4 linked regions of the Homo sapiens genome follow. The protein of the gene in region 4 purifies or fractionates together with the protein of the main gene of each other region. This does not show direct contact. Each region holds a gene or a part of one and is shown on either strand. Other genes may lie near its edges.

The links. Proteins that work in one complex are often made in the same cells at the same time.
Region 1: the proteins of PRSS35 (region 4) and OXCT1 purify together in Homo sapiens (affinity purification with mass spectrometry; one large-scale study listed by BioGRID and IntAct). This does not show direct contact.
Region 2: the proteins of PRSS35 (region 4) and ETFB purify together in Homo sapiens (co-immunoprecipitation; one large-scale study listed by IntAct). This does not show direct contact.
Region 3: the proteins of PRSS35 (region 4) and MRPS35 purify together in Homo sapiens (co-immunoprecipitation; one large-scale study listed by IntAct). This does not show direct contact.

What each region holds. Positions count from the first base shown.
Region 1 is NC_000005.10:41,842,926-41,846,425, reverse strand, and holds part of OXCT1 (succinyl-CoA:3-ketoacid coenzyme A transferase 1, mitochondrial isoform 3 precursor), read left to right. Parts: intron 1-2,768; exon of another isoform or gene 2,769-2,845; coding exon of another isoform or gene 2,846-2,851; intron 2,852-3,500. UniProt on the Homo sapiens protein: Key enzyme for ketone body catabolism.
Region 2 is NC_000019.10:51,352,889-51,356,388, forward strand, and holds part of ETFB (electron transfer flavoprotein subunit beta), read right to left. Parts: intron 1,955-3,500; exon of another isoform or gene 1,751-1,954; coding exon of another isoform or gene 1,421-1,750; coding exon 1,262-1,420; intron 403-1,261; coding exon 244-402; intron 1-243. UniProt on the Homo sapiens protein: Heterodimeric electron transfer flavoprotein that accepts electrons from several mitochondrial dehydrogenases, including acyl-CoA dehydrogenases, glutaryl-CoA and sarcosine dehydrogenase.
Region 3 is NC_000012.12:27,713,832-27,717,331, forward strand, and holds part of MRPS35 (small ribosomal subunit protein mS35 isoform 1 precursor), read left to right. Parts: intron 1-948; coding exon 949-989; intron 990-2,459; coding exon 2,460-2,627; intron 2,628-3,500.
Region 4 is NC_000006.12:83,515,534-83,519,033, forward strand, and holds part of PRSS35 (inactive serine protease 35 precursor), read left to right. Parts: intron 1-3,500.

The DNA.
Region 1 (3,500 bases), on a different chromosome or scaffold from region 4:
AAATCATCATTCTCAGTAAACTATCGCAAGAACAAAAAACCAAACACTGCATATTCTCACTCATAGGTGGGAATTGAACAATGAGAACACATGGACACAGGAAGGGGAACATCACACTCTGGGGACTGTTGTGGGGTGGGGGGAGGGGGGAGGGATAGCATTGGGAGATATCCCTAATGCTAGATGACGAGTTAGTGGGTGCAGCACACCAGCATGGCACATGTATACATATGTAACTAACCTGCACATTGTGCACATGTACCCTAAAACTTAAAGTATAATAATAATAAATAAATAAATACATACATACATACATAAATAAATAAAGAGAAGACTTCTGGATTGGAAGGCAGAAAATGAGTGCAATTAGGGAGGGAATGCAGGGGGATTTAAACTGAATATTAATGTTCTATTTCTTAAGCTGGTGTTATAAAAATGTATAAGTACTGCATATATTTTTAAAATGCTACATAAGCATATTTTGTACATTTTTATATGATAAATTTTACATTAAAATATTTTAAGATAAAAAATGTGTTTTTTATGTTTGATCTTTTTCCTTTACTGTCTAAATAAGTTTAAAAGGCTTCTTGACAAAGTAAAAGACAGGAGCCTAATTGTTAAAATGAACTGTAGTAGTATCTCATAAAGTTCCCGGAAAACTTGGGATAAATACTTTGATAGCTTGCTAGAAGTTGAAAAATTAATTCACCTCGTGAAAATATGAGACTAAAATATTTCTTAGGTTCATTTCTGCCTGGAATCAGGTGCCTCAAACTCGTAGTTTTTTAATTTTGTCTGAATTCCCTAGGAATATGACAGATAATTTATTTCTTAATTCTTAGTACTTTTTTTTTTTACTTAAAGCAGGAAAAAGTGAGTTCATTTCTAAATTAGTGTTATTTATTGAGGTCCTACTCTTTGCCAAACCCTGGTCTAAGCACTGTGGTAAAATGATCTAGATCAAGTCCTCCTGCTAGTGGAGGAACTGACAATGAATGAATAAATGCATAATGTCTATAGTGGAAGTACTGTGAAGACAAATCAAGTAGATTAACAGCAAAGAGAATTAATTATCACTGGCCAGGCAGCTGATATTCCAGACTGGTGGCCAGGGAGAGCTTCTTTGGGGAGGTGACACTTGGTAGAGACCTGAATAAGGTAGGAGAACGAGGCAAGTGGAGATAAGAGGGTTTGTGCTCTGTTCAGAAGGAAGAGTAAGTACAAGGTGCTGAGGCAGCTACAGGCTTGCCGTGTTTGGGGAACAGGAGGGTGGTGAGGCTGGAACAGCACATGAGGCAGAGAGTGATAAGGATGGAGATTGAAGAGAGGCAGGAGTCAAATTCATGCAAAGTTTGAATTTTACGGAACGCAGTGGGAAGCCTATGGAGTTTTGAATAAGGGTGAGAGTGATGTAATTTGAGTTGTCTTTTGTAACTATCACTGTGGCTGCTGGGGTGGTGGTTCTTTTTTTTTTTTTTTTGCTAGGAAGCCAAGAGCAGAAGCAGCGAGAGAGGGTTTAGGAGGCTGTTGTGTTAATTTAGGAGGGAATGGAAGGTGGCTAGACCAAGGTGGTAACAGTGGAGTTTGAGAGAAGTGGTTGAAATTGGTGTTATGTTCATGGTAGAGCCAACAGGATTTACTGGTAGATAGGTAAGGGGTGTAAGAGGAGTCAAGCATACTGTGTAAGATGAATGAAGCACAGGCCTTATCAAAGAGCTCTGTTTGGAACATGGTGCATTGGAGACGTTCATTAGACTCCAAGAGGAGGTGCTTAGTGAACGTCATATCAGGGGAGAGTCTAGAGCCAGGATAGAGACTTTGGAGGCATCAGCATATAGTATTTAAATCTGTATACTAGATGAGTGTCTAGGGGCTGAGTGCAGAGCACCTCGTTGACATTTAGAAATTGGGAAGAGAAGGAGCAGCAAAGAGAAATGGGAAAGAGTGATTAGTAAGTAAAGAAGAAACCCAGGGGCATCTGGCAATTTGAAAGAGAAGGGAAATTTTAAAAAGAAGGGAATGATCAACTGAGTGTGAAGAGGTTGGTAATACAGGGCCTGGAATTGAATCATTGGATTTGCAAAAACAGAGGTCATTGACAACTTTAAGAATTATTCCTTTTTGGAATAGAGGGGATGAAAATCTCATTAGATTCAAGAAAGAACCAAAAAGTGAGGAAGTGGTGACTACGAAATGTAGAATTCTTTCAAGTGAGTATAATAGCTAGTTTGACAAAACCAACTCCTTCCCCATTTTTAAATTTCAGTAAAACTAACACTCAGCAACAGCTGGTATGTAGACACATCAGAAAATTATGTAACTAGAATATAAAAGAAGCCTATTTATTGACTTTGCCTTGCATTTGCATATATTTACCCCAGTTTTCTAGATCTGTATGTAAAACACTCAACTATCATTGTTGGTATTTACAGTGATTTTTGAAATACATAAGCCGTTCCAAAATAACTTTGTATATTGATATGTGGCTCAGAAATATCTTTCATATAATTTATCTTAGTTCCTATAGTAAGATCCTCATTCATCAGTTATTCCCTAAGTGCATTAATCTTTTTTCTAGCAGGCAACTTGGTTAATGTCTTTAAAGTAGCCTTTATTTAAGAAAGGTTTTGTTTCAAACCATAGTTGAAATAAATGTACCAAAATTTTCTATTTTCTATAGCAGCTTTTTGTAAAACGCACTTAGTCTGTTTTTCCACTAGGGGGTGCGGTAGGGATGAGAATGGAGTTCTACATTCACATGGCTCCATTTTGTGCAGTGATGGAGTGTGGCAATGGATGCTTGTTTTAATTCCCGGAAATAAACCGTCAAGAATAAAAGAACATGATGGCAAGACAGTTTTGCTTTATGTTCTTCCCTCCAAAATTGGTAGTATAATTAAAAGGCAATAAACATAAATAAAAATCAATAGCATTCCCTAGATCAGTAATGTCAGAAGAGTAGATAGGAGCAAATGTAACATTCACAGTAGCAAGAGAAACCACTAAGTACCTATAAATAAACCTAAGAAAAAAAATAAAGCTTTTATGGAGAAAATAATAAAACTATTGAAGGAGGTCGAAGAAAACCTCAGTAAATGGAGACATATACTATGCTCATGGGTGGGAAGATAGGGCTTGTTGGTTTTCTCCAAATTTACTGATTCTGTGAATCCCATTTAAAATCTCAACAGGTGATATAGGTTATTGAGGATAGCTGAATGATAGATTTTTGTAACTATTTTATGTAGGAAAACAATACATAGACCATTTTATGCAAACTGTTTTTTCAGGGGAGAGGGAAAGAAGGACTATTTTTCACATTCAATATACAACCTGTACATACAAATAGTAAAATGAAAATAGTCTATCCCTCAGGCCATAGAACTTTCAGTTCCTCAAATGCACAAATTTTCTTTTGTCACTGGACCTTTGCTTGTCTGTTTCCTTAGCTCCCCTTAGACCACTTTGACTAAGTCCTGCTTGCCTAACACTGCTTA
Region 2 (3,500 bases), on a different chromosome or scaffold from region 4:
AAGTGCTGAGATTACAGGCGTAAACCACCGTGCCTGGCCCAAGAGGATCTTTCTAACACCCAGAGGGACTCTGTCCTCCCTGCTCAAACTCTCTGTCAGAAGGGTCAGCAAAGTCCCAAGCTGCTCAGCCTGGAGTGGTGAATGCCCTGGGCCTGGCCAGCTGCTGTCTCACCCCGTATCTCCACCACCCTCCTCCCGAGCAGGGATGAGCAAGGGGGCACAGGGAGGGCTGACCACAGCTACCTGTTTGCCCAGCAGCACCAGGTCCACCTTCTCCTTCTCTGCCAGCTTGGCCAGGACCCGAGCCACCTGCAGGGGACCCAAGCGTTCTGCTTCTGCTGGGGGCACCTCCACGTGGATACCTCGGTCTGCACCCATGGCCAGGGCGGTACGAATCGTCTCCTGCCAAGGACAGAGGGGCTTGACTTGGCTGCTATCCTCAGGGGGACCTAGGAGTCTGGCTCGCAGCCCCTCCTTCCTCAGACCCAGGAGTCCAGGGCCCCATCCCCTCCTTCCTCAGACCCAGGAGTCCAGGCCCCCATCCCCTCCTTCCTCAGACCCAGGAGTCCGGGCCCCCATCCCCTCCTTCCTCAGACCCAGGAGTCCGGGCCCCCATCCCCTCCTTCCTCAGACCCAGGAGTCCGGGCCCCCATCCCCTCCTTCCTCAGACCCAGGAGTCCGGGCCCCCATCCCCTCCTTCCTCAGACCCAGGAGTCCGGGCCCCCATCCCCTCCTTCCTCAGACCCAGGAGTCCGGGCCCCCATCCCCTCCTTCTTCAGACCCAGGAGTCCAGGCCCCCATCCCCTCCTTCCTCAGACCCAGGAATCCAGGCTATCAGCCCATCCTCCCTCAGACCCAGGGGTCCAGACTTCCAGCCTCCTCCTCCCTCAGACCCAGGAGTCCAGGTCCCAGCCCCTCCTTCCTCAGACCCAGGAGTCCAGGGCCCCATCCCCTCCTTCCTCAGACCCAGGAATCCAGGCCCCCATCCCCTTCTTCCTCAGACCCAGGAGTCCAGGGCCCCATCCCCTCCTTCCTCAGACCCAAGAGTCCAGGCCCCCAGCCCCTCCTTCCTCAGACCCAGGAGTCCAGGCCCCCATCCCCTTCTTCCTCAGACCCAGGAATCCAGGCTATCAGCCCATCCTCCCTCAGACCCAGGGGTCCAGACTTCCAGCCTCCTCCTCCCTCAGACCCAGGAGTCCAGGTCCCAGCCCCTCCTCCGTCAGACCCAGGAGTCCAGCCCCCTCCCCAAGACCTTCATCACCTGGCACTGTGCAGGCCCACAGCTGACGGCGATGACCTCCTTCACCAGCTTCTTCTCCTTGAGCCGCACAGCCTCCTCCACCGCGATCTCACAGAAGGGGTTCATGGAGTGCTTCACACCATCCGTGACCACACCGGTCCTGTCAGGCTTCACTCGGATCTGCCCAGCAGGAGGGGAAGGGGTGGGGTCAGGAGGAAACAGGCAAGAAGGTGGGGGCCTCAGCGCCAACCCTCTCCCAGGCTGGATGAGGACAACGACAGCCTGGAAAGGGGCAGGGCCTTGTCCGGGGTCACACAGCTCCAGGGACAGAACTGGGTTAGAGTTTGTAGGCAGGGGCAGGTCACCCTGTCTCCTTCTCTCATCCAGCCATTCCTGGGTACCAGGGACATCTGACTTGATCATCCCTACTGTTGTCACTGCTCCTCTCAGGCCTGAAAGAGTGTTTCTCAAATTTACAGTATTTATGGTAACCCACAGTGAGAGGTACATTTTACTGTATCTCCAAGTGTATATAAATACATAATACACTGATACATAAATACAAATGAGGAGAAGAAAAGGAAAAACCAGTTAGGTAGACAGTTAAGGGTGGTCCTCAGAGGAGCAGCCTGCCTGAAAAATCACAGCTACAGGCAACAATAGAGCAGCCTGGGGAAAACTCAAGCTGCCCAGCACAGAAGCCTTTTGTTCTTTGCGTGACTGACAGGCTCCCAGGAAAAGTTCCCTCCCCTTTTCAGGCACGTACATGGTGGTCTCTGTGGGAACTTGCACGGGGAGGGGCGGAGCTTACCTAAAACAAACCCACGGTTACAGAAACAAGAGAAGCGGAGCTTTGTGCTTGCCTAAAGACGTACCCACAACTACATAGATAACGGAGAGTTATGCAGATAGCTTTACAGATAAGATACTCAAACAGCTACAGAGATGAAAGGAGTTTCTTATAAAAGCTTTTGGTGTCTTTTGCTGTGCAGAAGCTCTTTAGTTTAACCATCAGAGTGAACAGGCAACCTACAGAATGGGAGAAAATTTTTGCAGCCTACTCATCTGACAAATGGCTAATATCCAGAATCTACAATGAACTCAAACAAATGTACAAGAAAAAAACAAACAACCCCATCAAAAAGTGGGCGAAGGATATGAATAGACACTTCTCAAAAGAAGACATTTATGCAGCCAAAAAACACATGAAAAATGCTCATCATCACTGGCCATCAGAGAAATGCAAATCAAAATCACAATGAGATACCGTCTCACACCAGTTAGAACGGCGATCATTAAAAAGTCAGGAAAGAACAGGTGCTGGAGAGGATGTGGAGAAAAAGGAACACTTTTACACTGTTGGTGGGACTGTAAACTAGTTCAACCATTGTGGAAGTCGGTGTGGTGATTCCTCAGGGATCTAGAACTAGAAATACCATTTGACCCAGCCATCCTATTACTGGGTATATACCCAAAGGATTATAAATCATGCTGCTATAAAGACACATGCACACATATGTTTATTGCGGCACTATTCACAATAGTAAAGACTTGGAACCAACCCAAATGTCCAACAATGATAGACTGGATTAAGAAAATGTGGCACATATACACCATGGAATACTATGCAGCCATAAACAATGATGAGTTCATGTCCTTTGTAGGGACATGGATGAAGCTGGAAACCATCATTCTCAGCAAACTATCGCAAGGACAGAAAACCAAACAACGCATGTTCTCACTCATAGGTGGGAATTGAACAATGAGAACACATGGACACAGGAAGGGGAACATCACACACCGGGGACTGTCGTGGGGTGGGGGGAGGGGGGAGGGATAGCATTAGGAGATATACCTAATGCTAAAGGACGAGTTACTGGGTGCAGCACACCAACATGGCACATATAAACACATGTAACAAACCTGTACGTTGTGCACATGTATCCTAAAACTTAAAGTATAATAATAAAAAATAAATAAATAAATAATTTTTTAAAAAAAAAGCTTTTGGAATCAACTGTAAAAATGGCAACCCGCTTGGGCTTCCCTCTCCTCTGTGGAGAGCTTTCTTCTTTTGCTTATTAAACTTTCGCTCCAACCTCACCTTTTGGGTGGTCTATGCTCTTTAATTCTCTTGGTTGTGAAACGAGCTCGGATAACACCTTAGACAACGTGACCAGTGACCCTGACCTATTTCACAAATGCCACTGCAGTGTAAGGGTCAGTGACCAATACTGACCCTGCCTACACACACACCATA
Region 3 (3,500 bases), on a different chromosome or scaffold from region 4:
AATCCCAGCACTTTGGGAGGCTGAGGTGGGTGGATCGCTGGAGCTCAAGAGCTTGAGACCAGCCTGGCAACATGGCGAAACACCGTCTCTACAAGAATTAGCCGGGTGTGCTCATGTCTTTAGTCCTAGCTACTTGGGGTGCTGAGGTAGAAGGATTGGCTTGAACCTGGTAGTTCGAGGCTGCAGTAAGCCGAGATTGCACCACTGCAATCCAGCCTGGGCGAGAGTGAGATGACCTTGTCTCAAAAAAAAAAAAAAAAAAAGAAAGAAAGAGAAAAAAGAAAAAATTCACCGTCATACAAACTAATTGACTAGGTTTCGTTCCCTGCTATATGTGTTCATAATATTTATCACTGTTTATTGAAATTATTTGTTAAAAAGTTGTCTTACTTGACAGACTCTGTAAGAGTCATTTTTTAGATAATGAATTCACTGTATCTGCAATTCAAATAACTGTAGAATTTTCCTTACTGGGGCTAGGCACAGTGGCTCACACCTGCCCACCGCACTTTGGGAGACTGAGGCAGGCGGATCACTTCAGGTCAGCAGTTTGAGACCAGCCTGGCCAACATGGTGAAACTCTATCTCTACTAAAAATACAAAAATTAGCCAGGTGTGGTGGGGTGTACTGGTAGTCGCAGCTACTTGGGAGGCTGAGGCAGGAGAATCACTTGAACTCCGGAGGTAGAGGTTGCAGTGAGCCGAGATCACACCACTGCAATCCAATCTGGGTGATACGCCGAGACTCCCTCTGTTTCCAGTTTTTAGTCTTCATTAAGATGATTTTGGTCCCTGAGCTTACCAAAAAAAAAAAAAAAAAGATTGTTTCATTGTTATGTTACTAAATACCTTAAATTGTGTTAGAATAATGGGATCATGATTGATGTTGAACAACTAACTTGACATGATAAAATTCTCTTTAACTACTGTGTTATCTTTTACGTACAGCGGAAAGAACACCCGGAAATGAAAGGCCACCAAGAAGAAAGGTAAAAAGTTCGTATACTCTACTATCTTAATGGTTTCTGGAGTTCTAAAATGAGGCAGATATTCATTATAAGGCAGAAGGGTGTTACCAGAGAAGACTTCACAAGGTCATGTTTACTGGGTGATTGCCATAGCCCTGGCAGAGGTTAGTCTTTGTTTTTTGTCAGTACCCAGAGAATAGATGATCTTTGAGAGGTTGACTTACTGAGGAACTCCCAGGAAACAGGTGTATAAACCAGAATATGGAACAATTTCTAATGCTATCTTAAGTCCTGCAGCCTGGGACTTATGCATTAATATAACTAGTTTGTTTATTTATTTATTATTATTTATTTGAGATAGAGTTTCCCACTTGTTGCCCAGCTGGAGTGCAGTGGTGCAGTCTTGGCTCACTGGTACCTCTGCCTCCCGGGTTCAAGTGGTTCTCCTGCCTCAGCCTCCCAAGTAGCTGGGACTACAGGCACACACCTCCATGCCTGGCTAATTTTTTGTGTTTTTAGTAGAGAGAGGTTTTCACCATGTTGGTCAGGCTGGTCTTGAATTCCTGACCTCAGGTGATCCACCCGCCTCAGTGCTGGGATTACAGGCGTGAGCTACTGCACCTGGCCTCCCAAAGTGCTGGGATTACAGGCATGAGCCACGGCACCTGGCCGTATTCTAACTAGTTGAGTCTCACCCTGTGGACATTTGGATTCCTTACTTCTATGGAGGAATCTAAACGATAAGGTCAGTTGGTGAGCAATAGTGTCAGAACAAAGACACATTAGTTGGAAGTTAAATGGTATCAAATTACAATCATTAAGAGCAGTCATTTCCTCAGGACTATTACCTGCTTCTAGGATATTGACTACACTGGTTTTGATATTGCGTAGGCGGGGCATGGCTGAATTTTGCCACTATAAACCCTACTTTTGTATGTGGGCCATCCCCTCGTATTTGATGCCATTAAAAATAAATGTTAATGTGATTGACTAAGCTATCAAGTACTAGTTTTTCTCTGGGCCTAGGAGACATATAATTTTTCATTATATATTTATTCAATCAGTTTAACCCTAATTATTTTTTCCTTTTCTTTTTACTTCCAAGTACTTAACGCCCCCTCATGTACTACTGACTTCCATCAAAGAAGTTCGAAAAATTATTTCAAAATGTATTGTTAATTCACCCTTTCATAAGCAAAATGTAAAAATTTTGCTAAAAGTCCAGTTAAAGAAATTTTTAGTGAAGAAAATGTGATATTAAAGGGGATCCTTGCCAGAGGGTTTGAAGAAACAGTGCAGAGATATTTAGGTAGATTTAGTGTTGTTTTTAAAATTTGGACAGCAGCAGCATTGTGGGAGGTCAGATTTTACATATGTTGCAATTTTGCTTCTATTTCTTGTAATTGTAGCTTTTTGCTTTAAAATTAAAATTCTTTAAGAATTAAAGAATGTGTTTATATTTAAAATACTAAACGATTTTATATTTCTTAGGCACTACCTCCTAGGACAGAGAAAATGGCTGTTGACCAGGACTGGCCTAGTGTTTACCCAGTTGCAGCACCATTTAAACCCTCTGCAGTACCTCTTCCTGTTCGAATGGGTTATCCAGTAAAAAAGGGCGTGCCCATGGCAAAGGAGGGAAATCTAGAACTTTTAAAGGTAAGACAAATTGCTGATTCATTGGCTCAGACTTACATAGAAATAAATGCTGATCTTCCCCCCTATTTCTGCTCTCTTATGCTTCACCGTTCAGTGTATAGCAGCTTAGTGTATTTTAATTTAAATGTTAAAAATAATATAATAGGTTTATTATTATACAACACCAGATAATAATAGGTGTTGTATTTTGATTATCAATGGTAAAGAATACTCAAAGAATCCTAGGCATTTAATAATGTAATTAGTTGGCTGGGCGCAGTGGCTCACGCCTGTAATCCTGGCACTTTGGGAGGCCGAGGTGGGCAGATCACTTGAGGTCAGGAGTTCAAGACCAATCTGGCCAACATGGTGAAACCCCATCTCTACTAAAAACACACAAAAAATTAGCCAGACGTGGTGGTGGGCACCTGTAATCCCAGCTACTTGGGAGGCTGAGAAAGGAGAATTGCTTGAACCCAGGAGGCGGAGGTTGCAGTGAGCCGAGATGGCGCCACTGCACTCCAGCCTGGGCGATAGAGTGAGACTCTGTCTCAGGAAAAAAAAAAAGAGTAATTAGTCAATCTTGTGGCTTCCCTTGTGACCTTTTTCTGTTGTATCTCTTCTTTTTGGAGATGGGGGTCAGTATGTTGCCCAAGCTGGTCTTGAACTCCTGGGCTCAAGAGACATGCCTGCCTCAGCATCCCAAAGTGCTGGGATTACAGGTGTGAGCCACCACACCCAGCCTATCATATCTTTTCTATATTGCATCTTTCCAGTGGAATTAAGAAAAATGAAATAACCTAATTTGAGATTAAGAATTGGGAGGTGAAACTTCCAGTTTAAAAAGAGGAATTTAAATTTTTTCTGTCCATAAAGGTAGAATATTATTTAGTA
Region 4 (3,500 bases):
CATTCTAGTTGTCCAGGCTGGAGTGTAGTGACACAATCACAGCTCACTGCAGCGTCCACCTCCCAGCTTAGGTGATCCTCCCAACTCAGCCCAGAGTAGCTGGGACCACAGGCATGCGCCACCACACTTGTAGAGACAGGGTCTCCCTATGTTGCCCAGGCTACTCTCAAACTCCTGGACTCAAGTGATCCTCCCATCCCAGCCTCCCAAAGTGCTAGGATTACAGGTGTGAGGCACCGCGCCCGGCCCTTTTCTACTTTTTAATCACTCCCTACTACTACTACTTCTCTTTTCTTTTTTTTGACGGAGTCTCGCTCTGTTGCCCAGGCTGGAGTGCAATGGCGTGATCTCACCTCACTGCAACCTCTGCCTCCCGGTTCAGGGGATTCTCCTGCCTCAGCCTCCCCAGTAGCTGGGATTACAGGTACACAACAGCATGCCTGGCTAATTTTTGTATTTTTAGCAGAGACGGGGTTTCACCACGTTGGCCAGGCTGGTCTGGAACTCCTCACCTCAAGTGATCCGCCCACCTAGGCCTCCCAAACTGCTGGGATTACAGGTGTGAGCCACAGCCTCCGCCACTCCCTACTACTACTTTCTTTCTAAACAGTCAGGCAGACTGTTGTAAAAACTCGATTCTCACCTTTGTAAGTGTAGCAGTTTCCTACTGCTGCTGTAACAAATTACCGAAAACTCAGTGGTTTAAAACAACACAAATTTATTATCTTATGCATCTGGAGATCAGAAATCTAAAGTTTTGGCTGGGCACGGTGGCTCACGCCTGTAATCCCAGCACTTTGGGAGGCCGAGATGGGCGGATCACGAGGTCAGGAGATCGAGACCATCCTGGCCAACACGGTGACACCCCATCTCTACTAAAAATACAAAAAAAATTAGCCGGGCATGGTGGCGGGCGCCTGTAGTCCCAGCTACTGGGGAGGCTGAGGCTGAAGAATGGCGTGAACCTGGGAGGCGGAGCTTGCAGTGAGCCGAGATCACGCCATTGCACTCTAGCCTGGGCGACTGAGAGAGACTGCGTCTCAAAAAAAAAAAAAAAAAAAAGAAATCTGAAGTTGTATTGTGATCTTCTGTTTTTAGTTTTAAATTATATTTCTTCATATTTTTCTTAAAACAACACATTTTCATTTATGTTCCTCCTTCTGGAAGTTCTAGGAAATAATTTTCCTTACCTTTTTCAGCATCTAGAGGCCACTCATATTCCTCAGCTCATGATCCTGCATTGCTCTGGCCTCCGCTTACATCTATCAGCTCTTCCCACTCTTAACCCGTCTGCCTCCTTCTTATATGAGCCCCTATGATTGCATTGGACCCACCTGGATAACCCAGAATAACCACTTCACCTTAAAATCCTTAATGTAATCGTATTTGTAAAGTCTCTTTTCTTGTGTGTGGGAAATATTCACAGGTCCTGGGGATGAGGATATTTGGCATACCACAATGAGGCAGTTAGAGATGTATGAAATACCTTGTAAATATCTACCTGAGTGTTGGCTCCCCCTGTTTGATATGAAAAACATTGGCTTTAATCTTTGTGGAGTGCTTACTGTGCTCTGGGCATTGTGCTTATCATATTAGTTTCTCACAAAAATATTCTCAAATATTATCTCTATCTAATAAATGTGGGAAATAATGTCTAGAGAGATTAGGTAACCTTCACAAGATCACAGTGTAACAAGTGGCAAGTGTACTTAAGGTTGATTTGGCTTCAAAGCCCACTGCCCCCATAATCATTGAAACACCCTAGTTCTTACTCCCCTTTTTTATTACGTTACAGACACTGTTATTTTCTCATACACTCTCTAAATTAAATGTTACCTCCATGTAGTGCTGCTGTCAGGGAGCGCCTCAGTGGATCAGGAATTAGTTTTCATAAGATACCCCCTCTCCTCAGCATCTGTTCCCCCAAATAAAACTGACTATGAAAGTTTTTACAATTGTCATCCAAAACATCACCGCTTTCTTTAGTGCTTGCTTTATTCCTGTTTATGTCACTTGTAATTCTCCCCCTCTCCTGCTGTGGCCTTTTGCCTAAGCCATTTCTCTCTGCAGTTATTCAGAATCATCTGGCCAGGCCCCAGTGTCTCCCTGTTGTGTGTCAATCCTGAGTAGGTGGAGGATGAAAGTAGAGGAGGAAATGAGGGCATGTCTTCACATTTAGGTATGCATGTAAACAGAGCCAGTGGTGTTAGGAAGCACAGGTGGTTGGGATTGCAGATGGCTAAATAGAGGACAGCCAAGTTTTAAAAGGTGGTCATGCAATCATTGGTGTGTACTAACATACACACTAAAGTAGAGGGTGGTGTTGGCCCTATGGGGTCATTGATATGACTGAGTAATTCCTGACCCACAGCAGCCTCCCAGGAACTGTTTGATGGATCAATGCAAAGTTGTGTCCCATGGCAACATGCTATGTACATAAATATGGACAAGTACCTCACTAGACATTACAAGGAACCAGGTGAAAAGAAAGGCATAAGTAATTGTGAATCTGTCACCTAGTGAGGGAAAGCAATTCAATGCAGGTCCTTCAATGGTAAGTCAGCATCTTTGCTTTCTCATAGACAGGAAAAATAATTGATTTGAAATATTAATATAGTGGGCAGCCATCTAATCTTTCATTAGTTTGTCTGCTCTATCTAAGCTAGACTATAAACTTCTAGGGTAAAAAACAAAACACAAAAGAGAAACTGAGCCTTAAGGTATAATGTCATTTCATCATAGGATTCTATATACTCTAGATAGACTCACTCAAAAAGTTGTTTTTTTTTCATTGTAGATCACTCCCTTAGAGTAATTATGTTGACATAGACTCTGTTTCTTTTTAGGCTGAGGGTCTGATGCAGTTCCAAAATTCCCAGTGTAGATCCAGGCTATAAATAAGACACAGAAAATGCAATTTAAGTGTTTTGTGGCTGCATAGTGTTTAATCACACTTAAGTTTAATAGCAATGAGAAAAATATATTACAGAGCCATGGATATTCATAGAAATGAGTAATTAGGAAAGCATTCATTTGGGAAGTCTCTAAAGTGAAGCTGTCCTTGAACGAAAAACAAAACAAAGAAAAAGCGAATTTTAGAGTGAGTTGGAAACTATCTTGAAATAAAAATATTTGACTGTAAAACTGACTTTTTAGAAAACTACAAGATCTCTAATTTTGGCTTATATAACAACCTGTTTTGAAGTGATACAAATTCACCAATTAAGGTAGGATAATAATTATAAAATAACATGTGTTAACTACTTACTATCCTCTGGGCTCAGTAGTAATTCTTTGCGTGTATCATCTCATTTAATCTCCATAACAATGTTATGAAGTCGAAATTACTATAATATTATCCCCACTTTGCAGATGAGGAAAGTGAAACTTGGAGAGTTAATGAACTGCCCACATGCACATGCCTCATAAGTGGTGAAAAGGGAATTGAACCCAAGCCTTCCCACTCCTTGGTCTGCACTCATAACCACTATGCTGGTACA